5 separate regions of the Homo sapiens genome follow, and regions 1, 2, 3 and 5 are each reported to be linked to region 4. Evidence: microRNA targets listed by miRTarBase, many of them from high-throughput screens and not tested one by one. Region 4 holds a microRNA gene; each other region holds the end of a gene's coding sequence.
Evidence for each region. The annotated mature microRNA hsa-miR-4534 reads GGAUGGAGGAGGGGUCU and lies in region 4 at 2,370-2,386, opposite strand. An mRNA with a match to its seed (bases 2 to 7 or 8) in the 3' UTR can be bound and repressed. Matches are read on the target gene's strand: a 7mer-m8 pairs with bases 2 to 8, a 7mer-A1 pairs with bases 2 to 7 and ends in A, and an 8mer does both.

Region 1: miRTarBase lists SPTLC3 as a target of hsa-miR-4534. Seed matches in the 3' UTR shown: 8mer at 3,248-3,255.
Region 2: miRTarBase lists ZNF675 as a target of hsa-miR-4534. The part of its 3' UTR that is shown has no 7-base or 8-base seed match.
Region 3: the mRNA of LRAT is a reported target of hsa-miR-4534. Seed matches in the 3' UTR shown: 7mer-m8 at 3,268-3,274.
Region 5: miRTarBase lists SLC71A2 as a target of hsa-miR-4534. Seed matches in the 3' UTR shown: 7mer-A1 at 1,605-1,611.

What each region holds. Positions count from the first base shown.
Region 1 is chr20:13,164,429-13,169,428 of GRCh38, reverse strand. It overlaps SPTLC3 (serine palmitoyltransferase long chain base subunit 3), which reads right to left. Exons shown (of 12, transcript NM_018327.4): 12 at 326-4,675. The coding sequence ends at 4,562. It also overlaps a transcript of TASP1 not described here. Among named protein-coding and RNA genes, the nearest start is that of ISM1, 54 kb to the left of the region's middle.
Region 2 is chr19:23,648,647-23,653,826 of GRCh38, reverse strand. ZNF675 (zinc finger protein 675) reads left to right here. Exons shown (of 4, transcript NM_138330.3): 4 at 1-1,026. The coding sequence ends at 601. Among named protein-coding and RNA genes, the nearest start is that of ZNF675, 36 kb to the left of the region's middle.
Region 3 is chr4:154,748,458-154,753,637 of GRCh38, forward strand. LRAT (lecithin retinol acyltransferase) reads left to right here. Exons shown (of 3, transcript NM_004744.5): 3 at 527-4,663. The coding sequence ends at 679. Among named protein-coding and RNA genes, the nearest start is that of LRAT, 7.0 kb to the left of the region's middle.
Region 4 is chr22:37,986,035-37,991,214 of GRCh38, reverse strand. MIR4534 (microRNA 4534) reads right to left here and starts at 2,421; the gene lies at 2,362-2,421. It also overlaps a transcript of POLR2F not described here. RefSeq lists an enhancer at 4,765-5,180.
Region 5 is chr9:94,458,760-94,463,759 of GRCh38, forward strand. It overlaps SLC71A2 (solute carrier family 71 member 2), which reads left to right. Exons shown (of 12, transcript NM_032558.3): 12 at 402-2,283. The coding sequence ends at 653. Among named protein-coding and RNA genes, the nearest start is that of SLC71A2, 87 kb to the left of the region's middle.

The DNA.
Region 1 (5,000 bases), not on the chromosome of region 4:
CCTTTACTCTTACGTTTGTATTGTACCATTGTAGGTGGTCTCAGTGGTGTGCTAGTAAATGTTTAACAGACAGCTCTCTAGAGCCCTGACTTGTAGTGTCTGCCAATTTCCATGGTGTAAATACTCCCATTGTGGCCAATTTCAAGCTACCAATCTGATGTCACTGAATGAGGAATTAGAAAGAAATGTGCACAATTAGTTCTTATCACAGTGCAAGCCAGCTCCAGCCACCCCTACCAATTTTCCCAGTGGAATTCCTAAATACAAATCTCTACCTCAGTCTTTTTTCAGGGTAACCTAAACTAAATCAACAGAAAACCATCAATTATTTTCATATTATTTTTATTTATTTTAAAACTAACATTTTACAGGCACAATAAAGTGAAATTGGTCGTTTCAAATGTTTCAGTGAAACATACATTTCTCTCTGTCCTTCTCACACACACAAAGACACATGCACACACACACACACACACATGCACACCCCACGTACATCAGGACACCATAAGACAATGTCCCGCAATAATTACCTAAAAATATTTAAAATACAGACTCTTTAATTTTCTAAACATTATGCAGCTGAGTAGGGCATTCTAAAGAACAGACTTCAAATTGTTCTTACTGTTTTGAGACCAGGAAACATTGCCAAGAATTCACCAGATGCTGTTCTTAATTGCTGTTGTTACAATTGTTATTATTGCTATAAATCAAAATGTATATTTAAGAGTTAATGTTTCATCATCATCGGAACTTAGGTTTTTAAATCAGAGTAGGCCATTTATAACATTTGCTATCTCTGAAGAAAAATACAAAAGAATATTGTTCGTTTGAAGAACTGTTAAGACTTTTACCCTACTGAAGAGCTGTTGTTGGAATAAATAATCAGAGGTTGAAGGTTGTTTTTTAAAGAGCAGGAAAAGAAAACAGAAGAAAGATACTACATTCAGGCCGGGCACGGTGGCTCACGCCTGTAATCCCAGCACTTTGGGAGGCCGAGGTGGGAGGATCACCTAAGGTCAGGAGTTCGAGACCAGCCTGACCAACAGGGAAAAACCTTGTCTCTACTAAAAATAGAAAATTAGCCATGCTTGGTGGCACATGCCTGTAAACTCAGCTCCTCAGGAGGCTGAGGCAGGAGAATCGCTTGAACCCGGGAGGTGGAGGTTGCAATGAGCCGAGATCTTGCCATTGCACTATAGCCTGGGCAACAAGAAGAACAAAACTCTGTCTCAAAAAAAAAAAAAAAAAGAAAGAAAGAAAAGAAAGATACCACATTCAAAGCAAATGGGCATCTTATAGGGAATGATACAGAAAACTGAAGAAGGCATAATTTTACCCAAATGAATCGCAGATGGTTCTTCAATATTGGATCAATTTTTGTAGAAAGAGAAGTTACTTGGAAAATGGGAACAAAATGTCCCAATGAGAAGAGAAGGTTGACTGTGGAATAAATTAATTTTACCAGTATATATACACTTAATTATGAACAAGAGAATCAGAACAAGGTTCCTGCTATTAGAGTCAATTGGTTTATCAAATTAGAGTTTGAATAATGTTCTTAAATTTTGGCATAGATTAGAATCACGCAGGAAGGCTGGTTAAAAATGTAGATTCCTGGGCACTACAACTATTATGTTTCAGTAAAGGTCTGGTGTAGGGCCTAGGGGTATGGATTTTAGCCAGCTTCCTAGTAAATTCCAAAGCCTGTCGTCTCTGTAAAATCAAAGCATGCTGAAAGGCAATATGGTTAAACGTCCATGACACCATCGTTTCATAATGAGATTAGGAATAAGTCTATGCCATTTCCTTATTATACAGAGATAGCCTCCTTACAAATATCATCTGGAACCTTTATCTTCTGCTTTCCTGAGGTCATTTTCAAGAACATCTTCCATTTATTTCTCAACCAACCAGATTTTCATAGTTGCTTACTCCGTAAAGGAAAAATGCATATGTGTATGTGTGTGTGCATGTGTGTAAATGTGAACAGAAGGGCTGAGTGCGCATAACATTATAGAAAATTCTCTTTTCCAACAGATCTAACCAAAGACACATTTTTGGCTCTGATATAATTAGAGCTAAGGTCGGGGCGGTGATGTAGAGGGTAATGGTTGATGATATAATTATCAAGACTCAATAATCAAATAATTTTAATCATGAATTAAAATCATGAATTAAAATCATGAACTTATTAGCCTAGCATTTGAGAGCTTTTTCTTAAAAAAATTAAAAATCTCATTATTCACAATCACCCTCCTAATTAACCTTATTCTATATGACATATACTCTAATATTATTGGCCCTGTGGAGCTTGGGCACCTTCTAATGCACTGTGGAAGCATTCTACTTGGATTATACCTGTATATCAACAGTTGTTCTCATACCTGTATATTCAACATGGACTCTCTAACAGAAACAGGTCCTTTTGTTTTGTACATTGCAGTGTAATAAATTGCCCCTGTACTCTTGAATCTTGATGAAAAGAGACTAACTTCCTCCCTGCCTTCCATGCTGGGTAGGTAAGTAGTTTCCCACAATGAATTAGACCCAATATCCTCCATGAAAGTAATAATAGTGGACATTCCTGCTCATGAAGACACATGTCTAGGGGCTTAAAACTTGAAGTGTAGATGTGAAGGTGTGTGTAAACATCACAGACAGATCCAGAAAGAAAGGAAGATGTTTATTGCTTTCCATACCTTGTGGAAGGACTAGATATCTCGCTGTCTTTTTGACCTCCTGTTTCCTTTATAGAACGCAAGGCATTTATGCATTTTGGACAATTCATTTAAATGCACATATTCAAGATAAGAACAGTATGTCTCCCTTTCTTTGCATATTTATGACACATTTTATTTGCACAAATAATACTGCATCAGTTTCATTGAGAAAAGTTGGAATTTTGTTATCAAAATCATTGGATGGGAAACTGCATTTTCAGAACCCACTTCTTTTCCTCTTTCACTAACGGTATTCCTTACAACTTGTAAACATTCATGAAGAACTCTATCATTGTGATCCATTTTTAAACCAATGCACCCACTTGGAGTTATAATTTCCCCATAAAAACTTTCCATGCTGATCACTTTTTTTCCTTTAATACGCTTTGAGCATCAGGGCACACTGCTCCATCCATCGCAGGCGCTGCGGGTGGAGTTTCTATCTCAGTGCACAGCATGAAAGCTTGGGTCCATCTGTGCCACACAAAACCAAGCCTCTCTTGAAGTGATTTGTTTACAGTGTCATTTGATGGAGTGGAATGTTCTGCAACTCATTCGAACTGTTACAGAAGCTTTGCTAAAAGGTCACCACTGCTCTCTAGAATTTCCAAATCTGGGCACCCTCTGGGAGCTTGTTAAAGATAAGGTTCTCCATGGGCTTTTTCCATACAAACTAGATCAGATTAACAAGAGGCTACTTTTCCATAGAGGTTTGTGTTCATGTTGAGAAGGAGAGCAAGAAAGAGAGAACACAAGTAAATTACAGTTAGTTACCTCAAAGTGTGCAAGCCCACTTTCTCCCAATTCAGAGGGCATGTAACAAGTGATAGTACAATTTAATAGGCCTAAACAAGTGTGTTGGTCTTGAAAAAGTCAGAATTTGCTTTTAAATGTCCTTCTTGAATCAATGCATTCTTCAAATATAGTCTTGGGAGTCGATTCTAAAGGACACTGAATTTCACCATTTACTCAAAATTCAATAGGAAAATGACAACTAATTCCTTAAGGTAATAGAGGCTGTGCAGGGTAAGCATTCACCGTGCACTGCACCAACAAGGTTCAAATTGTTGTAACTACCATTTTAGTCTAGACCTAAAAGTGTCTTGTGCTTGCTTTCTGCCCCTTTTCTTATGAAACAAACATCTTGAATTTTCCAAACCTCAAAAGCTCAGCTGTAAAACTGTAGGAGACCAGCAAGAGGAAAAGGAAAATTTCCTTCAAAGACGTCTCTAGTCGCAGTTGATCAGTTCTGCTTTCCCCCTCGAAACATTAACTATGTCTTTTGACACTTGTCTGTGAAAAACGTCCAAATGTGACAAATGGTAGAAACAACATTTCTTTACCCTCCTGCCTGGAACTTCCCATGATACAGATGAGATCTAGCTGATGCTTTTATGAGTGGAACAAGGAAGGTGGCTACTGTCCACCACACTCACTTACATCTGCAGATGGAATAAGTAAACACATAGTGAACTTACTGAATAAAAATTTTAAATTCTCTCATTTGCATTTGGTTGGAATCCCTGAAAGGGTCTGCACAGTAGCAGCTAAAACACAGGCTTATTGCCATTAAAAATATTCTCAGAAGTGTGTGTGTGTGTGTGTGTGTATTTCTAGTAGAATACTTGGAAGAAGAGAGACTTAAATCTGGAATCATGTTTTTGTCTCTGCAGTCCAAGCTGGAGACATTAAAAACAACAACGTCTCCCTCAGTTCAATCAAGCTGGTCTGGGAACCAAAATTGTCCTGAGGAAGGGGGAGAAATCCATTTATATTCCTTGTGAGGCAAGGAGGGAGGTCTTTCTCGCAAAGTCTTTATGTGTCATTCAGGACCAGGAAACTTAATCTTCGAGTTCAAAGCTCGTCTCATCATAGAGCTCAGGACGTGCTGACTTCTTGTGCCGGGAATATTTCAGTTGCAAGAGATCACCCATTTCATCAAGAGCTTCTAAAACCTGCAATGAGATTGCTTTCCAATAGCTATCATTGAACACCTAAGTAGCCCTGCTTTGCAGAGCCCAGATTAATAGCAAGCCTCACAAAGACACACAGTCTTAGTTTGCTAGCTTCTTTGATTTTAAAGAAAAGAAGCAAGATCCGTACCATTAGGTTGTGGTTTAAGACCCTAGAGGAATGTTAGATGCTAATTAATTTTATTTAGTGGTCTAACTCCATACTATGAATGTTTATTTTATTTTGAGAGTGTGAAGAGAAGAATAAAAACATGTGACCCATGCTTACCCTTAAAAGGTTTTATTTTAAAATGTAGTGACTTATATG
Region 2 (5,180 bases), not on the chromosome of region 4:
ATGTGAGGAATGCGGCAAAGCTTTTAACCGATCCTCAAATCTTACGGAACATAGGAAAATTCATACCGAAGAGAAACCCTACAAATGTAAAGAATGTGGCAAAGCTTTTAAACACTCCTCAGCCCTTACTACACATAAGAGAATTCACACTGGAGAGAAACCCTACAAATGTGAAGAATGTGGCAAAGCTTTTAACCGATCCTCAAAACTTACTGAACATAAGAAACTTCATACTGGAAAGAAACCCTACAAATGTGAAGAATGTGGCAAAGCTTTTATCCAATCCTCAAAACTTACTGAACATAAGAAAATTCATTCTGGAGAGATACCCTACAAGTGTGAAGAATGTGGCAAAGCTTTTAAACACTCCTCATCCCTTACTACACATAAAAGAATTCATACTGGGGAGAAACCCTACAAATGTGAAGAATGTGGCAAAGCTTTTAGCCGATCCTCAAAACTTACTGAACATAAGATAATTCATACTGGAGAGAAACCCTATAAATGTGAGAGATGTGACAAAGCTTTTAACCAATCTGCAAACCTTACTAAACATAAAAAAATACATACTGGAGAGAAACTACAGAACTGGAATGTGTGATAATGATTTTGACAACACCTCAAATTTTTCTAAATATAAAGGAAATCATACTGGTGAAAAATTCTAGAAATGTAAAGAATGTGTCAAAGACTTTAAATGGTTTTCACACTTCATTGTATGTAAGATAATTCATACTGGAGAAAACTACAAGTGTGAAGAATTTGGCAATACTGTTAATTAAGGCTCAAACCTTATTGCACAGGAAAGCGTTTATACTTAAGAAAAATTGTACAAATATAAAGAGTGTAAAATAGCCATTAATATCTGTTGACATCTTAATATCAGAATGTTGGTACTTAATAAAAGCATTATAAATGCAATTACTGTCTAAAGACTTTAAGAAAATATAAGCCTTTAAAGTGAAGAAGAGTATTCGTTTTGAAGACAAAGATTACAAACATAAAGAGGGTTGTAGTACATTTACTGGTATCATAAAGCTTATCATGTACATTTTGTACTAGAGAAAAACCCTGAAGCAGTTGCTCAAAGTTTTTTCAACATCAGTGAATCTGTATGGGAGAAAAACTCTGCAAATGTAATACATTTAGAAAAACACATTTTTTCAAAATCTATAGCTTTAGAAAACACCAGAGAGTTAGTACTAAAATATATTTCTGCAGGCTGGGCGCAGTGGCTCACACCTGTAATCCCAGCATATTGGGAGGCCGAGGTGGATGGATCACCTGAGGTCAGGTGTTCGAGACCAGCCTGGTCAACATAGCGAAACCCTGTCTCTACTAAAAATACAAAAATTAGCAAGGCATGGTGGTGAGTGCCTTTAATTCCAGCTACTCAGGAGGCTGAGGCAGGAGAATCGCTTGAACTGGAGGGGCAGAGGTTGCAGTGAGTCAAGATCGTGCCATTGCACTCTAGCCTGGGCAACAAGTGTGAAACTCCATCTCTCTCTCTCTCTCTCTCTCTCTCTCTCTCTCTCTCTCTCTCTCTCTCTCTCTCTCTATATATATATATATATATATATATATATATATATTTTTTTTTTTTTTTTTGTAGATGCAGTAAATATAAAACAATATTTATTCTAAAATTAAGTCTATGTAAATATCAGATAGCTCAGAAATATCTAAGGCACTGACACTTCAGACATTACAGTAAATCAGAATGCTGAGTATAAAAAATAATCCAGAACTAAAGTTGTTAGATAAATTGTGTATAACTTTAAAAGGTGTAGAAAATTTTTTGAAAAGTTATAATTACATTGAAAGTATACTTTTTTCCTTAAAAAATACAGATTATTTGCAACATGAATAATGTAATTCAACTCTCAAAATTCAAAACTCTTCTTGTTTTCTTCATTTCTATTGTATTCAACTTGTGACTAATTGTTGCATCAGAGATAGGAGAATTTTTTTTTATTAGTTGGGCATTATGATCTTTTTTATGGAAGGGTAAGGACATTAAAATGTAAGACACATAAAAATCTAAGTGGAGAGGCTCTTTTTGTTAATATAAGTGACACATGAGGTGGGTGTTCAGGGTAATATTCTGCATTATAGTGAGAAAAAAGCATTTTAAATTTTAGTTAAAATTAGTAAATTATTTTACTAATTGTACTTTTATGTAATAAAATGTACGTTCTTAAAATTTTAAGTTATGTGTGAACTTAATATTTTATTAAAATTTTATTTAACATTTATAAAACATTTAATAAAGTTAGTATGCCATTAACTTTAACCTATTTCACTTTACTCACTGGTGTAGGCAAAAGATGGTAACATACTATTTGGTAACATAATGGACAAACATTTCTAGTAATCCCTTTTGCCAGTGACTTTAAACTGCAAGGAGGTTAAAGAATGTTCTCATAGGTTAAATATTTATTTCTCATCTAAGTTTATACTTTTTAATTTTTGTGGATACATTGTATGTGTATATTTATGCCATATATAGCACATTTTGATACAGACATATAATATGTAATAATTACATCAGGAAAAATTAAGTATCCATCATCTCCAGCATTTATCCTTTGTATTATAAACCAATTCTACAGTTTTAGTTTTTTTTAATGTACAATTGTTATTGACTACAGGGCTATTTTTATGGTTATGCTAAAAATTATATAGAAGTATAAATAAAGTCCACACATTCTGAGTCCTAAATAAGCATTAAAAAAATTGTTATATGTATTTTTGAACATGTTGTTTCTCTGCCTGCAAACACATACAGACTTGTTAGTTTTGACTTAGTAAAGTTAAATATATACATACATTACTCTTAAGTTAAACCCTAGGTGTAAGAAAATTATGGAGTAAGTAAGCATGTTTGTGTGAGTATAAATTTGTTCCTATTTTCAGAAGAAAAGAGCAATATTGGAACAAAACATTTTAGTAAGGTAACTAATTTACTAGAAAACTATAAACCTCAAAAATGCGGAAAGCAAATCTATACTCTTTCTACTGAATTACTGTAAAATAGTATGGCTTATGGGTTCAAAATCTTATGCAAATTTTGTTTTTACTTGATTGGTACTCATGCCTAGCCCACATTTTTTTGTTGTTTCTTACAATTTTTTTTCTTTTATAGTTTATGAGGTTTTCATTATGTGAAGTGGTCAAAGATATAAACTATTTTTATAAAATTTAGTAGGGCACACAAAATAATTTTTAGATGTAGTTCCACAATTAGTGTATTGTTTTATTGAATTAAAACATTCTATTTTGTTCTTCTAATTGAAGAACCTTATATAAGCCTATTTAAGTTATTATTCCTTTCACTTTTTATAATTGACAGAAGTAAATTTATTTGTTGATTGAGCCAGTTCAGGTATTGGGGGAACCCGCCCCCAATATTTCAATGTAGGTTCTTTCTATTTTCCATAAGTGTCAGCCGGCTGAGAAATAGAGATAACACAGAGAAAGGAATTTTACAGCTGGGCTGCCAGGGGTGACATCACCTATCAGTAGGACCATGATGCCCGCCTGAGTCTCAGACCAGCAAGTTTTTATTAAGGGTTTCAAAAGGGGAGGGGGTGTAAGAACAGAGAGTAGGTACAAAGATCACATGCTTCAAAGAGCAAAAAGCAGAACCACTGATAAGGGTCTAACAAAGATCACGTTTCTGAGGGAACAGGGCAAAGGGCAAACGCAGAACCACTAATAAGGCTCCAACAAAGATCAAAGGGCAAAAGCAGAACCTCTGATAAGGGTCCAACAAAGATCACAGGGCAAAGGGCAAAAGCAGAACCACTGATAAGGGTGTATGTTCAGTAGTACATGTATTGTCTTGATAAACAACTGAAAACGGTTGGAGAGCAGAGAACCAGTCTGACCACAAATTTACCAGGGTTGAGTTTTCCCAACCCTAGTAAGCCTGAGGGTTCTGCAGGAGACCATGGCTTATCTCAGTCCTTATCTGAACTGTACAAGACAGACATTCCCAGAGCAGCCATTTATAGACCTCCCCCAGGAATGCATTCTTTTCCCAGAGTATTAATATTACTTGCTAGGAAAAGAATTTGGTGATATATTTCCTACTTGCACGTCCATTTATAGGCCCTCTGCAAAAAGAAAAATATGGCTCTTTGCCCGACCCCGCAGGCAGTCAGACCTTATGGTTGTCTTCCCTTGTTCCATAAAAGTCGCTATTCTGTTCTTTTTCAAGGTGCACTGATTTCATATTTTTCAAGCACACGTTTTACAATCAATCTGTACAGTTAATTATCACAGTGGTCCTGAGGTGATGTACATCCTCAGTTTATGAAGATAACAGGATTAAGAGATTAAAGACCGGCATAAGAAATTACAAAAGTATTATTTGAGAACTGATAAATGTCCATATTAAGATGAAATCTTAACAATTTATGTTCCTCTCCCACGGCTCCAGCCGGTCCCTCTGTTCAGGGTCCCTGACTTCCCATAACATTCAGGTAAGTACTAAGGAGGCTTCATAAGTCATGAGGATGTTTTAATATATAAATGTAGCAAAAAAACGTGACAGTGCTTGCCGAGTAACAGATGTTTTATAATCTGTAAATATTCCTGCTAGAGTTATTTTGTAACTTTAAGTCAGAGATGTAAAATATAAATGACAAAGAAAAAACATTGATTCTTTATGTGGATAGGATCTTTTTTTAGGCAGCAAACCTGAATCTTGCTGAATATAAAGCAAAATTCTGCTTGTTTTATTTTCCATTTATCTTCAGGTTTGTCTTACGTGTTTTCCAACTTTGCATGACATCACAGCACTTCTTTTTTTCTGTTTTATAGCTACAATTTTCTCACTTTTGTAATGCCATGTCATTTCACATGCTACTTTGTAGGTTTTGATGAGAAAGTTGGTATTTTTAATGCACTTGAAAAATTGTTTTTTGGTCAAGTGCGATGGCTCACACCTGTAATCCCAGCACGTTGGGAGGCCGAGGCGGGCAGATCATGAGGTCAGGAGTTTGAGACCAGCCTAGCCAATATGGTGAAACCCTGTCTCTACTAAAGATACAAAATAGCCAGGTGGGGTGGCATGCACCTGTAATCCCAGCTACTCCGGAGGCTGAGGCAGAAGAATTGCTTGAACCCAGGAGGCAGAGGTAGCAGTGAGCCGAGATTGCACCATTGCACTCCAG
Region 3 (5,180 bases), not on the chromosome of region 4:
TATTTAGTCAGGAAATGGGATTTGACAATAAAATTAGACTTTCTATGCCTGTAGATTTTGAGACTTATAAAAAAGTTATCATTGGTATCATTAGATTTTAGAATGGCAGATTGGAGGAATTGAATCTACTTTTAATTGGCCAAATTCTATTATTTTTACTCAAGATTAGAGACACCTCTTTGCTCATCTAATTTTAAAATATGCTATTGTTATTGATAAGCAGTTTGATGTTTTAAACCTTTAGTCCTGAATAACCATGTGGTTATACTTTCTATAGTTTTCTATAAATGCTGTATTTACATAGGCAACTGCCATTATTAGTTGCCTAAGGGATCATTTCTGCTACTATACGGTATAGAATCAGAACTGGACTCTTAACATTGTAAATTTTTTTGTAAGTCATAAGAAAAAGTCTAGTTCTTCTGGTAGACAGAAAATAGCTGGGAAAACTGATTTACTGTTTGATATATGTGATTCTTCTTGGGTTTAGCCACCTTTCCTAATTTTCCAATATTTTATTTTCCAGTTTTGTGAGACTGTGAAGATAATTATTCGTGATCAGAGAAGTGTTCTTGCTTCAGCAGTCTTGGGATTGGCGTCTATAGTCTGTACGGGCTTGGTATCATACACTACCCTTCCTGCAATTTTTATTCCATTCTTCCTATGGATGGCTGGCTAACTTCATACCCCCATGTCAGTGTGTGTATTCTGTATGTAAATATGTTTATATTTATAGAGCATCAATCAATATAAGCATTATTGAGAAAAATGTGACCCGTAACACTGTGTTCTGGATAAAAATGTGATTAGGAATCACGCAAAGTGCTTACTGTGTAAGCCCAAGAACAAAGGCTTTCTGAATCTTCTCAGGCAGTTCAGATTTAAAGCACCATCCAAACCTTGGAAATACGACAGGGTGTGGTAGAATTCAGCAATATGAGAAAACCAGCCCCTAAAATGATAGCCACAAGAGATTAATTGTGTTTTTTTTTCTCCTGTAATCCTTGTACTGTTCGGCTGAATTTGAAGATTGGAAGACTTATATTGAGACCAGTAACTTTACTGTAAATTTACTTTGTTTCATTGAAAAAACAAATTGATAAACATATTAAACTGGAAGAATTTTCTTTATTCAAATGAAAACATGTTTGATGACTGGTCAAAAAATAAGCTCATAATCTATTTTTTTCATGTAGTATATAAGTCAAGAATGTTTTATTGTCATTATGTGAAACCAATATTGGCAAATAGTACTTTAATGATGAAGTAAATGACCAGAAATTATAGAAATCTGTGTTTTCCTGTAAAAATAGCACTATAGTATCACTTGAACAATTTGATTTGGCTTTACTTACTAGGAAGCCTGGAATTCATTATTTTTTTCCTTTTATGTGCCACTGTGGCTACTTTAAATCACTCTGAGAGGTAAATGGATATAGGATTGAAGTTATGTGGGTATTTGGCATGTGTGTGTGAAATAAATATGTAGATAGTCACATATACACAGACTGAGAGATAAATTGTTCTTGATTGCTTTATTATCATCATACTAGTGTGTTCATTATAGAGTATCTGTAGAGGTGAATGTAAAAGTAAGTCCAATCTATTTTCTTATGTCATTGAATTTGTAGTGTTAACTTGCATATATGTTATTGGATGGGTTGTCTTTTAAAGCATTTACTAATGTACTCTGAAATTTTTAAAAGCCTTCAGATTTGTTTTCTAGTCACTTTTTTCCATATCATTTCTAATTATAGTTTATATCCTTAAAAGAAGGATGCCACAGTAGTATGTAAAACCCAAACAAGTAGAACCCAAGCAAATAAAATTATTTAAAATAATTTTAAAGTGGCTTAGTACTGCCAGTCATGTAAATTGATTCTGCTGAGGGTCTTATAAGAATTGAGATATAACAATGGTAAAACAAGCATTCAAGCACTTTTACAAAATTACCAAATTCTTAAAATGAAGCCACAGCTAGACTTGCATTTCAGGTATTAAAATTGCTTTCTTAACTGTCAAGAATCACAAAATAACAAATCATATTATGAGTGAATATGGGGAGGGCGGGGCCAATCAGTCAATGATAATCTGAACAAATTTTAAGAGCAGATTTTAGATTAATAATGTTTTATCACCACTAATTTGCCCACAACAAACTCAGTATTTAATTTTTCAAATTAAATATTAAATTATTTAAGTATTTTAAATAATTAAAACATTAAATGGCAACACCATAGAATATAGGTGTTCTCTGGACCTATTCTAACCACTTAAAATTATCTTAAGTATGCATACATAAAAGCAACCACTATGAGAACTACCGTGTTAGTGGTTTTTCACTTACTGTATATTACCCTTGTAGGAATAGTTTAAGGAAATTCATTTCTTAAAAATATAGTGTCCTCAAATAATTAATTTTTTTGCAAACTTTAGTTATTACAGGCAGCAAAAACCACTGTCTGAAACTAAATCTGTGTTCAAAGATGAAGACCCCTCATTAAAAGCCAAGGACGTTCTTAAGATTGGAACTGACATAATTAGTCTTGACTTACTTCATTAAAGCAAGATTCAATTCCTTGTTCATTTGAGTGTTCATTATATGCCAGGCATTGACCAGTTGCAATTTTATGGTCCAGAATTAATATTATTATTCGTAAACTAGCTATAATAGAGTATATACAGTGCTGTGGGAATACAGGGGAAGAAGCAATTAAATCTGCTAGAAGGGTAAGAGAAATCTGTATGCAGGAGGCAATGCTAGCATTAAGCCAAGAAATAGTGTGAGGTGATCTTATCACACTGATGTGTTCAACTGTTTATGGGAAAAGGAAACTAGGATGGTTTTATTTGTGAAATGTTCTACAACGCTAGAACTGTTGAACTTCTTGGGAGAAAAGGAGAATCTTTGTTTTGTTGTGCTGAGTTTGATTAGTTGCTTAACCAAGTAGAAAGAAAAGCACATCTTCCTGATCACAGTTATAAAAGAAACCCTGAGGCCGGGCGCGGTGGCTCAAGCCTGTAACCCCAGCACTTTGGGAGGCCAAGGAGGGAGGATCACAAGGTCAGGAGATCGAGACCATCCTGGCTAACACGGTGAAACCCCATCTCTACTAAAAATACAAAATTAGCTGGGCGTGGTGGCCGGCGCCTGTAGTCCCAGCTACTCATGAGGTTGAGGCAGGAGAATGGCGTGAACCGAGGAGGCGGAGCTTGCAGTGAGTGGAAATTGCGCCACTGCACTCCAGCCTGGGCAACAAAGTGAGACTCCATCTCAAAAAAAAAAAAAAAAAAAAAAAAAAAAAAAGAAGAAGAAACCCTGAGCCATTAATGTGTCTCGTAACTTGAGGAAGTTCATGAATTCTCTGGGCTTCATCCATTAAGATTCATCCTTATGCTCCTGCAAGTTTCTTATATTTATGTATTTCTATTCTGATTTCTGAAATGATAACCTAGTAGTGTCTGATGAAGTTTTTTCATGCTTATTTTATTCTTTGTCACAGATGAAAGAAGAATAGGACTAATTGGGGCTAAGATGAATTAATGTAAGTGTCAGATACTAGGCAGGTGTTAGGGATGAAATGATGAATGAGGCATGGACCTGTTCCTCAGAGTTTATGGCCCAGTAGACATAATTGTATTAGGACTTTCTGCAGTTGACATTTGCATAAAGCTGACTGACTGAAGGAACAGAAAGTGAGACAGACAGATATGACCAAATTTATACAAACCATGTACCAACACTTGAAAGATGGGTGGATATTTTCCAGGAAACAGATTTTGGGCAGGACATTCCATGCACTGGAAATAGCATGAACAAATGCATGAAAATTGCCTACAACATGCCTGGCACATAGCTGTGAGGTACCCTATGAGTTGTTGACTTGAAAACATGGAACTGCACAGGGCATTCAGGCAAGTGCAAGTGGTTCAGGGGCCAGCGCAGAGCAGAGTGCTGAGTAAAGATGTCAGAAAAGGAAAGCAATGGTCTGGTACAAGTCTTGTATAGAACAAGAAGTTTAGACTTTTGAACAGGCAATCGAGATTTGGGGTTCAGAAAGATAAATCCCAAAAGTATGGAGAACAAAGGAACTCATTTTAAAGGACTAGCTAAGATGCTCAATCTCTAAAAAAAAAAGGATCTGTATTCGTGAGAGTAGAGAGAAAGGTTGTTTAGGAAGAGTCAACAGACTTTAGCAAAATCCTTTTATTTGATTCATGCATAACTCCTGATGGAGTGTCAAGGAAGACTCATTCACTTTTCTTTCCTGCCAGAAAGTTGGTTCTTGCAAAATAGATTAACTTGATGACTATGTGTATATTGGATACTCCTAATTTTAGCTCTGTTAGATATGTTTCTTTCTAAGGACAAGCAACTATGTATAGACTTGTTGTTTGAATTTTTTTTCAGTATATATATGTTTCTTGTTTTTCTATTTTTCTACTTCATACTGTTAATGTCAAATATCAAAAATGTTTTCCAGCAATATCAAGTTATGGCAATGGCAAAAGTCCTTGTTGTAGATGAGAAGCATATAAGAAATGGTTGCCAATCTTTGTTTTGTATGATCTATTTAGAGTTTTAACCAACCTAGATCTGTCAGCTAAGCTAATTTTATATTTGGTATACATGCATGTCAAATAAAGTTAATTTTACATACTATTCTCTCTTTAAATTTTAAATACATAAATGTAGATCACAAACTTTTTTTTTCAGCGTGGTAGCCTGAAGAATTTTGTCTTTCCAATCTTCCTTTACAGATTACCAAACTTAGTTTTATGCATTTGAAGTTAAAACTTTATGTGGATCTGTCTTCAGACTGATAATATCTATGTTATCCATATCTTGAAGCCTACCTTGATTGTGTAGGAATAGGTTCTGTGTAATATTAAATAACATATCCCTTCTCCATTGCACAAAATTAAGTAACAATGACAACAAATAATTAGTCATAATATGAACTCTATACAGTTGACCCTTGGGCAAAACAAGTTTTGTTTGTTTTTGTTTTTGAGACAGGGTCTCTCTTTGTCTTACAGGCTGCAGTGTAGGGACACAATCCTAGCTCACTGTAATCTCAAACTCCTGGTCTCAAGCGTTCCTCCTGCCTCAGCCTCCTAAGTAGCTGGGACTACAGGTGCATGCCACAATGCCCAGCTAATTTTCAATTTTTTTGCAG
Region 4 (5,180 bases):
AGGAGGTGGAAGTGGCAGTGAGCCCAGATCACGCCACTGCACTCCAGCCTGGGCAACAGAGCCAGTCTCAAATAATAATAGTAATAATAATAACAATGGAAACGGGGGTCTCACTATGTTGTCCAGGCTGGTCTCCAGCTCCTGGACTCAAGCAATCCTCCCACCTTGGCCTCCCAAAGTACTGGGATTACAGGCGTGAACCACCACGTCCCACCCTTACATCTCTAAAAAGAGGAAGCAGAAAGCAGTGTTTCCCAAATGTCTTTCAAGAGATGCCTATCAGTGTCCTGAGGAACACCAAGGGTCTGAGGCATCACGAGGCATCACCTTGCAAACACTGGATCAGGCACGGGCCTCTTGTTTTGAAATACAATTCATGGGTTATCAAATATGGAAACACTCTCAGAGATCAGCTAGCCTGCTGATTTTACATTGTACAGATGGGGAAACTGAGGCCCAGAGAGGGAAGAAGGTTGCCAAGGCAACACAGGGCCTCCACAGCCATTGGGTCTTGACCCCAGCTCTTGGGGTCCAGAGGCCCAGCTCCAGCTGCCTGTTTGGCCGTGCCAGGTTCCAGGTTTCTACATCGGTCTCTCCCATCAAACCCTCAGCTCCTCAAAGCCAAGGTCTGGTCTCTCTCACCTCCCAGTCCCAGCTCCTGGCCCAGTGCCCTGCACAGAGGACACATTCACAGAAGTTCCCAGCAGCTGGAGAGGCTCAGGGCAGACGCCAGGAAGGGCATTCCAGCAGCTGGGGACAGATGGCAGGAATGGGCAGTCAACTTCTCTGAAGGCTTCTCAGAAGAGAGCAGAGGCCAGGCTGCCAGAGGCAGTGCTGGACACTGGCCCCAGCTTCCTGGTTTCCAGAAAGGATGGAGTTGGGAGCGAAGGAAGATTCCAACCCCGGGAGCTGCCTTGCTGGCCTGGGTCCGAGACCCTCTGCTTGCACCAGAAACAGGGAGGGGCAAGAGCCCCTGTTGGGACAGGCCATGGAATGCCATCCTCCTCCCCCAGAGCTCAGACCCTCTGCCTCCAGGAAGCCACTCCTGCCCGCTCCAGCCTCCCTGGTCTTTTCCTCCTTGGAACTCTGACAGCAACTCGGCTCAGGGAAGGTGAGCCGAGGCTGAGCATGGCCTCAGGGGCTCCCAATAGGAACTGGAGACTGGCCTGTCCTCCAGGCTGTTCAGTAAGGAGGCAGAGCACATCTGAAGGTGTCTCCTCCTCTGAGGGAAAGTCATAGGGAAAAGAATTCCAACCAAGGTGCCCAAGGTGTGTCCTGGAAGAGGACCTCTCAGTGGGGCTGCAGCAGTGCCTAGACCGCCAGCAGGCAGAGGGAGGACAGCGCTCCAGGGGAAGGTGGAGCAGGCCCAAAGGCCCAGGCAAGGAGAGGAGGCAGGAGCAGGCCAACCTGCAGCTGCACTTGCAGCCTAGGGGCAATAGAGCAGAGTGGTCAGAGGCTGGGCTGGGACCAACCACAGGTCCCAGTCCACACCCTGTCATCATTCGCTGGGCGAGCTCAGGCCTGTCACTGAATCGCTTTGTGCCTCAGTTTCCTCCCTAAAATGAGAATAATAGCATCTACTCAGAGGGTTGTTGGGAGGATGAAGTCCGATGACAGGAGCCCTCACAGCTGAGCCGGCACCTGGGGAGGCCCTAGAGTGTCGCCTTCGCTGTTAAGGGGCATGGCAGAGGAGGCCCACCCATGACAGAGGAGCTTGTCATCCCAAGCAGGAATGCCACCTGGTCTGACATTAGGATTCAAAAGGCAAATGATAAACTCCTGACTGTGAGGCCGTGGTGGCTGCTCGGTTAATACTTGTGCACTTGACCTGAGGTGAGCATCCTCCACACCTCCCAGTGCTGGCCTAATAGCTAAATGATTTCCTCTGACTCACATTTATTGAGCAGTCACTATGCTAGGTAGGGGAGATGTGTGTGTGTATTCTTATTTAATTCTCTCATCACTTGGGGATATCAAGGGTGCATAAGATTATCAACATCGTACATATGCAAAAGCCGAGTCCTGAGAGGTTAATAGCGTGATCTGCCTAAGGCCCCTTGGGTACTAGTGGCAGGATTTCTTGACTTCAAGTCACTTTCCACTACATCCGAGACTGAGGATGACACAGCCTTATCCAAAGGTGGAGGTGGCCTAGAAAATGCTCAGGGGAGCTCCCACAGCCACCCCAGCGCACTCAGACTCGGCTGAAGACCCACAGGGTAGCTTCTGTCTGTCACTATGCTGCCCTCGACCACTAACCTGTGCCCGTCGGCCCTCCACCTTCCCAGTGCATAGGCCCTCCCCTGCCACACCCCAAAGCTCTCCGGATACCCCAGTATAACCTGCCTGGCTGGTGGGTCCAGTACCCAAGACCCCTCCTCCATCCCTGGTGATTTTGGCTCTGGAAGGGGGTCATTCACAGCCTCAGGGATCCAGAGACTCTGTGAAGACCTCCCAGGGAACTTTATGCTTGTACCTCAGCCCCAGAAATTCAGAATCAACCAGTCTGGGGTGGGATCTAGGCTCCAGTATGTTTTTTTGTTGTTGTTGTTGTTTGTTTTTATGAGACAGAGTCTTACTCTGTCACCCAGGCTGCAGTGCAGTGGTGCGATCTCGGCTCACTGCAACCTCTGCCTCTTGAGTTCAAGTGATTCTCCTGCCTCAGGCTCCCACGTAGCTGGGATTACAGGTGCGTGCCACCATGCCCAGTTAATTTTTGTATTTTTAGTAGACATGGGGTTTCACCATGTTGGCCAGGCTGGTCTCGAACTCCTGCCCTCAGGTGATCTGCCCGCCTCGGCCTCCCAAAGTGCTGGGCTTACAGGAATGAGTCACCACGCCTGGCTCAGTATGTTTTTCTTTTTTTCTTTTTTTTTTTTTTTTTGAGACAGAGTTTCGCTCTTTTTGCCCAGGCTGGAGTGCAATGGTGCAATCTCAGCTCACTGCAACCTCCACCTCCCGGGTTCAAGTGATTCTCCTGCCTCAGCCTCCCAAGTAGCTGGGATTACAGGCGCCTGCCACCATGCCCAGCTAATTTTTTTTTTTTTTTTTTTTTAGTAGAGACAAGGTTTCACCATGTTGGCCAGGATGGTCTCAATCTCTCGACCTCATGATCTGCCCACCTTGGCCTCCCAAAGTGCTGGGATTACAGGTGTGAGCCACCACACCCAACCAAGGCCCAGTATGTTTTTCTTAACTCCACAAGTGATTGTAAATTCAACAAGAATTAGAGCCAGTCCTAGGCAACTGATTAGAAATGCAGAACCTCAGGCCCCACCCCAACCTGAAGAATCCCAGTGCGCCTTCCCATTTGAGAAGCACTGCCCTACGCCAAACCCCGTATCCGCAAGCCAGGCCCTGTGAAAGGCCCCCGCAGGGAAACTGGAGGTAGGAGGGCACACAGTCCAGATAGAATTAAAGAGTGGAGGCCAGGACCCCCCAGGTCGCATCCACACAGCACTCAGAGGTGCTAAACGCTTTCCCTGTGTTCCCTCATCCCATCTCAGCCCTGTCCTCTGAAAGTCAGGAAGACAGTCTCATGCCTGTGTGGGGAAACTGAGGCTGGGGCAGAGCCTCAACTTGACCAGACCATCCCTCACTCCTGCATGGCCCCTGGTTCTGCAGCCAGCAGATTTCCTGACCTTCATCTCAGTGTATCCTTCAGGGCAGGCAGGGAGGGAGGGTGACCATCGCCCCACGTGACAGGTGAGGGACCAGGGACCCAGTGGGGGAACACAGGCGGAGCCTTCCATAAAGCCGGACCAGCTCCCTCAGGAAGAGGACTTGGGAGCTGGGGGGTGAAGGGTCACTGCTGACCGGAGGCAGCTCTGCCAGGCAGTGTCATCAGTGGGCTTCACGTTTGACTGACAGGTATTCCTTTCCTCTCCTCCTCTCTGGGGCCCATCTTCTGAGTAAATCCGGGACCTGCCTTAACAAAAGCCAGGCTGAGTCCCAGGAAAACCCTGTTGCTCCGGAAAGGCCTCCTTGGGCCATGGAAGGAAGCCTGGATTTCCACCATTACACTCAGACCGCAGACCCCTCTCTGCTGCAGAATAAACACCCTGAGAGAAGGCAGGTCATAGAGCCTACCAGACACCACACCTTGCCATGGACGGTGACAAACCCTCACTTCAGGACAGAGAGGTGATGGGGGGTGGGGTAAGGAGGTCACAAGCATCCCTGGAGAAGGGTCAAGAATGAGGGGGTAAAGGGACCCCTGCCACCCCCAGCAGGGAAAGGAGGAGAAGGTGACACTGGCCCTCCTGTTGTCCTGCTGGGGCAGAGGCCCAGGTGTCTTCAGCCAGGATCCCTCCCCTCTCCAAGCTCCCTGCTCTTCAGGAATGACTATGGGTCCTTCACCCTTGCCTGCTGGAGAGCACTGGGTTCCCAGGGCCTGGGATGGGATGGAGGGGATCCCAGTTGCCAGCATGGTGGGCAGGGATGTGTTCGCAGCAGGGGCCCCAACCACACACACACAGCACTGGTCATCTGACAGCCCTTCCCACCCGCCCTGCAGGCCCACCTGCCTCACCCAACACTGCTCAGCAAAAAGCCCAGCACAGCCCTGAGAGGAAGGCAGTGTCTGTGCGGGGACAAGGGAGAGAGAGAGGGAGTGGCCCCTTCTGTCTAGCGTGGCTTCCTGCAGACAGAGCGTGCCCACTGCTACCCCCACCCCCATCCTGGCACAGCTGGACCAAGGAGGGCAAAGGAGGAAGCAGGGAGTTAGAGAGGGGGCAGCTGTGGGACCCCACATTCCACCTCCTAACTCTGGGCTCTTTCCTTCCACAACCACCCCTCCTGCCCCAGGCGGGTCTCAGGCCAGTCACAGACACAGCAGAGAGCGGGGAGGTCCTTTCCTCAAAGAGGAGGAACTGAGGGGTGGAAGGATGAGTGGGGACCCACCGGGAGAGAGAGATGCCAGGCAGGCAGGCAGCGGGCGGGCAGCAGCGGGTGTTGGAGGCGACTGCAGGGCAGCCGGGACACGACGGCAGATGCTCGTCCCTCGTCCCTCTGTCCATCCAGGGCGGCTCCTCTCCGGGCGGTTCTGAGGCCGAGCGGGCGCTGTTAAAAAGCTTTTTATGTGTGTGTGTGTTAATCACATGATTGCCGTTCACCTGTATTTCGAACAAAGACAGCTCACTGTTTCAAGGCCCCGAACAAGAGTCTGGGCACAGGGAAGA
Region 5 (5,000 bases), not on the chromosome of region 4:
GCTAAAAATTGAGGTAGGGTACTTTTTGTACTATTTATTTGAAATTTCTTCCCTTGTTCCCTCTAAGCCATATCTATACAAAGCTGGAATTAATGTTCATGTACAAAGGTGCATGATCTGAAGTCATAGGATGGGATTATAGGTAAACAGCTGTTGCTTACAAGCTTACAGTTTTGCTTAAGCTATTTGGAAGTGGTACAAAAAGCAGTTAATTAGTTGCCCTTTGTCATATTCCAAACACCAAGCTCTAGTGGAGTTTGCCTTGACATTTAATGAAACATTTGCTTATGAGAATATGATTCACTTTTTGGTGGTGTGTTTTTTTTGGGTAATCTAGGAATAATTTTGAGTTAAAAGACTAACTGTATTCTTTGTCTCCACTTGTTTTCCACGTTCAACAGGGAGCTGTCATCCCAGGCCCGCCGTTTTTATTTGGGGCATGTATAGTCCTTATGTCTTTTCTGGTTGCCTTATTCATTCCTGAATACAGTAAAGCCAGTGGAGTTCAAAAACACAGTAACAGCAGCAGCGGCAGCCTGACCAACACCCCAGAACGGGGCAGTGATGAGGACATTGAGCCACTACTGCAAGACAGCAGCATCTGGGAGCTCTCTTCATTTGAGGAGCCTGGGAATCAGTGCACTGAGCTGTAAACTCGGCAGAAAGTGGGATTCTGCATACGCCATCTCTGAGAGCCATGGAGGGAGCCACACCCCTGGTGACTTCATGGTGCTGGATGGGAGACGCTAGCGGCATCCTTCAGGGCCAAGTTTGATAAATACCACCGCCATCATTCTGCTCATCCTCCTCCTGTTTTTTTTTTTTCTCTTACATTCTTTTTTTTTTTCCTGTTTATACATTAGAACAAGATAAGATTTGAAATACTTCCTTGCAAATAATGTGCAACTCCCAAGGTGAAACTCAAATAGAAAAAGTCATCTCTCTGGTAGAAAGGATGGCTTTCCTGTAATGACTATAGAGTAAGAGTGGCAGCAATCTTTCCATGCCCTTTTCAGCAGAAGGCACAGAACAGTAGCGGGACTGCCATCTCTGGCAAGATTTCAGGTAAAGAATCTCTTCTTAATTTCTACCTTCCTGTTTCTCTGAATCAGCCCATAGGTGTTGATGAGTGGCCACTCTTAAAGAGTCACTCAGTATCAGGGATCTACTGTCTTTGTTCAAAGGTCAAATAAAAACCTAGTCTCCTTTTATTCTACTTTCTATTCTTAGCTAGAATGAAACTCAGCATATATACACTTCTGGACATAATAATATTGAATAGTAATTACCTTTACTAGATGAAAGAAATTTTCATTACAAACTTAAATCATGTAAAACTCAACAACTCAGATTCCTGGACCTGGTGTCCTGGTTGGGTCCAAGGTGATTTTACAGAAGAAAAAAACAACTCAAGCATTCTGGTGGCAACATAGAGATTGTAGGCTGCTTCTAAGAAAGTTATTAACAATTTGGAAATTCCTAAGTAGGATGAGAGTTAGTAACTGGATACGAGTGAAGTTTATATCCAAGTTCAGACTCAAAGGCATTATTATGATTTGCTTCTTCCCATGTCTTCCATGTCCTGCTTCTCAAAGTTTTTCTCATCCATCACACTCCTGCCTTAACTGCTCTGAGTATGCATTTGTTTTCAATTCATCTTTATTTCAATCTGTTTAACTTTTGAATCGCATGGGAATACGCACATTAAGTTCCTTTCTAAAATAAGGTTTTATGAAGCTGAGTTTCACGATAAGTGTCTTGCTATTTTTTGAGATGTTTTATGGACAAAGAAAACTTTACAGATTTATATGTATTTTGCTGCACCAGTAAATGGACCATTAACTAGGGCCCACCTTTAACAGAGCACCCCTTTGAAAGTTTTATAGGTATGAAATATATGTAGATATTTGTAAAGGGTTTTAATTTTTTTTTTTTGATGGGGTGCTGTGTAAATCTTGTATTTATAAATGTAATGAAGGTATTGACAGAAAAAAATATATACAACTTTTATAAAGGATTGTGTACTGACTGAATACATTTAAAAGAAAATATATTTTGAAACCTGTTCTGCTATGAACAGAGATAACATATCTTTTTACTATGCTATTGGTTTTTAGGTTAAGCTTCCTAATGCATAATAAATTTACAGTGGTTACTTTTATGTCTTGTGTCTTTTTTTTAAAGCAAATAGTATTGCTCTTTTGGGTTCTCTGTTGGGTGGCTTTCAATTAAACTGAGTTGTAATCTTTCAGCTGATGCAAAAGGTATGTATTTTCAAAAAAATTTTATTTTTAACAAAATTCCTTCAAAGTCTCCCTTCAAAAACATCGTAACTACAGATGCTCCTTGAAAAAAACATCGTAACTACAGATGCTCCTTGACTTACCGATGGGGTTCCATCCTGATAAGCCCATTGTAAGTTGAAAATATCATACATTGCAAATGCATTATTAACACAGCTTAGAAGCTTCAGCACTTTCGGTATCAGCACAGTAGAGTATTGGTTGGTTGTTTACCCTCCTGAGTGCATAGTGATTGGGAGCTGCAGCTCACTTGCCACTGCTCAATGTCACGAGAGAGTATCATACCACATATCGCCAGCCTGGGAAAAAAAATCAAAATTTGAAGTATGGTTTCTACTAAATGGGTATCGCTTTTATACTGTCATGAAGTTGGAGACCATCTGTATTTTTATTTTTAAAAAGCAGGGACAGAACAAAAACGCGTATATCCACGTTCATAGCATTCATAACAGCCAAAAGATGGAAAAAAACCTAAGTGGCCATTGACCGATGATGAATAGATAAGCAAAATAGGTATATCCATACAGCAGACTATTATTCAGCTTTAAAAAGGAAGGAAATTCTGACACGATACAAAATGGATGAGCATTTAACACATTATGCTAAGTGAAACAAGACAATCACAAAAAGACAAATACTATATGGTGCCACTTAATGATGTGCCTAGAGTAGTTAACGTTCAGAAAGCAGAGTAGTGCTCACCACGGGCTGGGGGAGGGAGAAGTAGGAAGCTGTTATTTAATGGGTACAAAGTTTCATTTTGCAAGGTAAGAAAAGTTCTGGGATGGTAATGGTTTTTTGATAATGGTAGTTTTATGAATGTTCCCCATGTGCTTGAGAAGATGGTATTCTCTTAACTGTGAGAGTGTAAGGGCCAATGTATGTGCTGAACATCTATCTTATTATGCTTGGTATTTTACACTTATTTTTGTCCAGTGAATGGACATCTCTGTGATGCTGAGTCTTGCTATCCAGGATTATGCTGTCTATCCATTTGTTAAGGTTTACTTTTAATATATAGTGTTCTGACATTTTTCTCAAACAGGAATTGTATATTTCATGTTGTTTATTTCTATTAGTGTCTACTGTGAAATGGAGGGGTGTGTCTTTACTTCCATCCCATCCTTAAACTATTTATTTTTTATTATTTATTATTTTTTATTTTTTTTTTGAGACAGAGTCTTGCTCTGTCGCCCAGTCTGGAGTGCAGTGGCGCAATCTTGGCTCACTGCAACCTCCACCTCCTGGGTTCAAGCAATTCTCCTGCCTCAGCCTCCCAAGTAACTGGAGATTACAGGCACATGCCGCTATGCCCGGCTAACTTTTTTTTTTGTATTTTTAGTACAGATCGGGTTTCGACATGTGGGCCAGGCTGGTCTTCAACACCTGACCTCAAGTGATCCACCAGCATTGGCTTCTCAAAGTGCTGGGACTACAGGTGTGAGCCACTGCGCCCAGCCAACAATTCTTTATCTAAGGTCATCCTCTATGGACCAGAGAACTCTGGGAATTTCTTGCCTCTTGGGATCCAGAACCAGAGAAACAGCAGAGCATAGGGTGACTTACTTGTGGGCTCCCACAAACAGAAGGCCACTCAGACCTGCTGTTTGCCACCCCTGCCCATTCCTTCTCCAGATGGAACTGGTACTCTTCTGACTACCAGACAGGCTGCACCACCAGCAAAGGGGATGGATACAGGAGCCACACCAACAATAAGCGACCAGGGAAGGCTCCATATTCCTTGTGGGCCTAGGACTGCCTTTTCAAAGGAAAAATAGCTAAAAAGGCAGAACCTGCAAAAGAGGTGCAGCTACATTAGTGACCTGACCAAAGAAGGCTCTTTGTCCCTGCAGGTTTGAGATGGAGAGTCCCCTCATCCCAGACACAGAGGCAGAGGGGGTAGAATAGGTGAGGGGACACTGGGAAGAGGGATCCTTCCAACCCCACCTCACCAACATCTCCCCCAGCCCACCCCCACCCCACACACCAGAAGCCTGGTAAACCCTTCTGCACCCTCAGCTAGCACCAGCAGAGAGCAGTGGGAACCTCCTTTGGCACTAAATCCACTGAGGATGTCAAAGCAAAACATTAAAGGCTCCAATAATCAAACTATCATTGAAACCTCCTCCCCCACCCACAAAATAGGCTAAGGCCCACATGCCAACCCCAAACAAGGTGCTTGCTCGCTAAAATTATCAAAGATGTAAATAGCACCTAGCATTACATAACATGACAGACAAAAGGGCCAGGATACAATCATCACACCAAGAGCCAAGAAAATCATGGCTTGAATGAGGAAAGACAATCAACTGACCCCAACTGAAATGAATCAGAGGTTGGATCCATCTGAAAAGGATTTTAAAGCAGACATCTTTTTAAAATGCTTTAGTGATCATTTACAAATTTTCTGCAATCAAATGAAAACAAAATTATAAATCTCAGCAAAGAAATAAAGGTTATAAAACATGAACTGAAATGAAATTATGGAACTAAAAATACAATAATAGAAGTGAAAACTCGCCGGGCACTGTGGCTCATGCCTGTAATCCCAACACTTTGGGAGGCCCAGGCAGGCGGATCATGAGGTCAGGAGATCGAGGCCATCCTGGCCAACATGGTGAAAACCCTTCTCTACTGAAAATACAAAAAACATCATTAGCTAGGCATGGTGGCGGGCGCCTGTAGTCCCAGCTACTT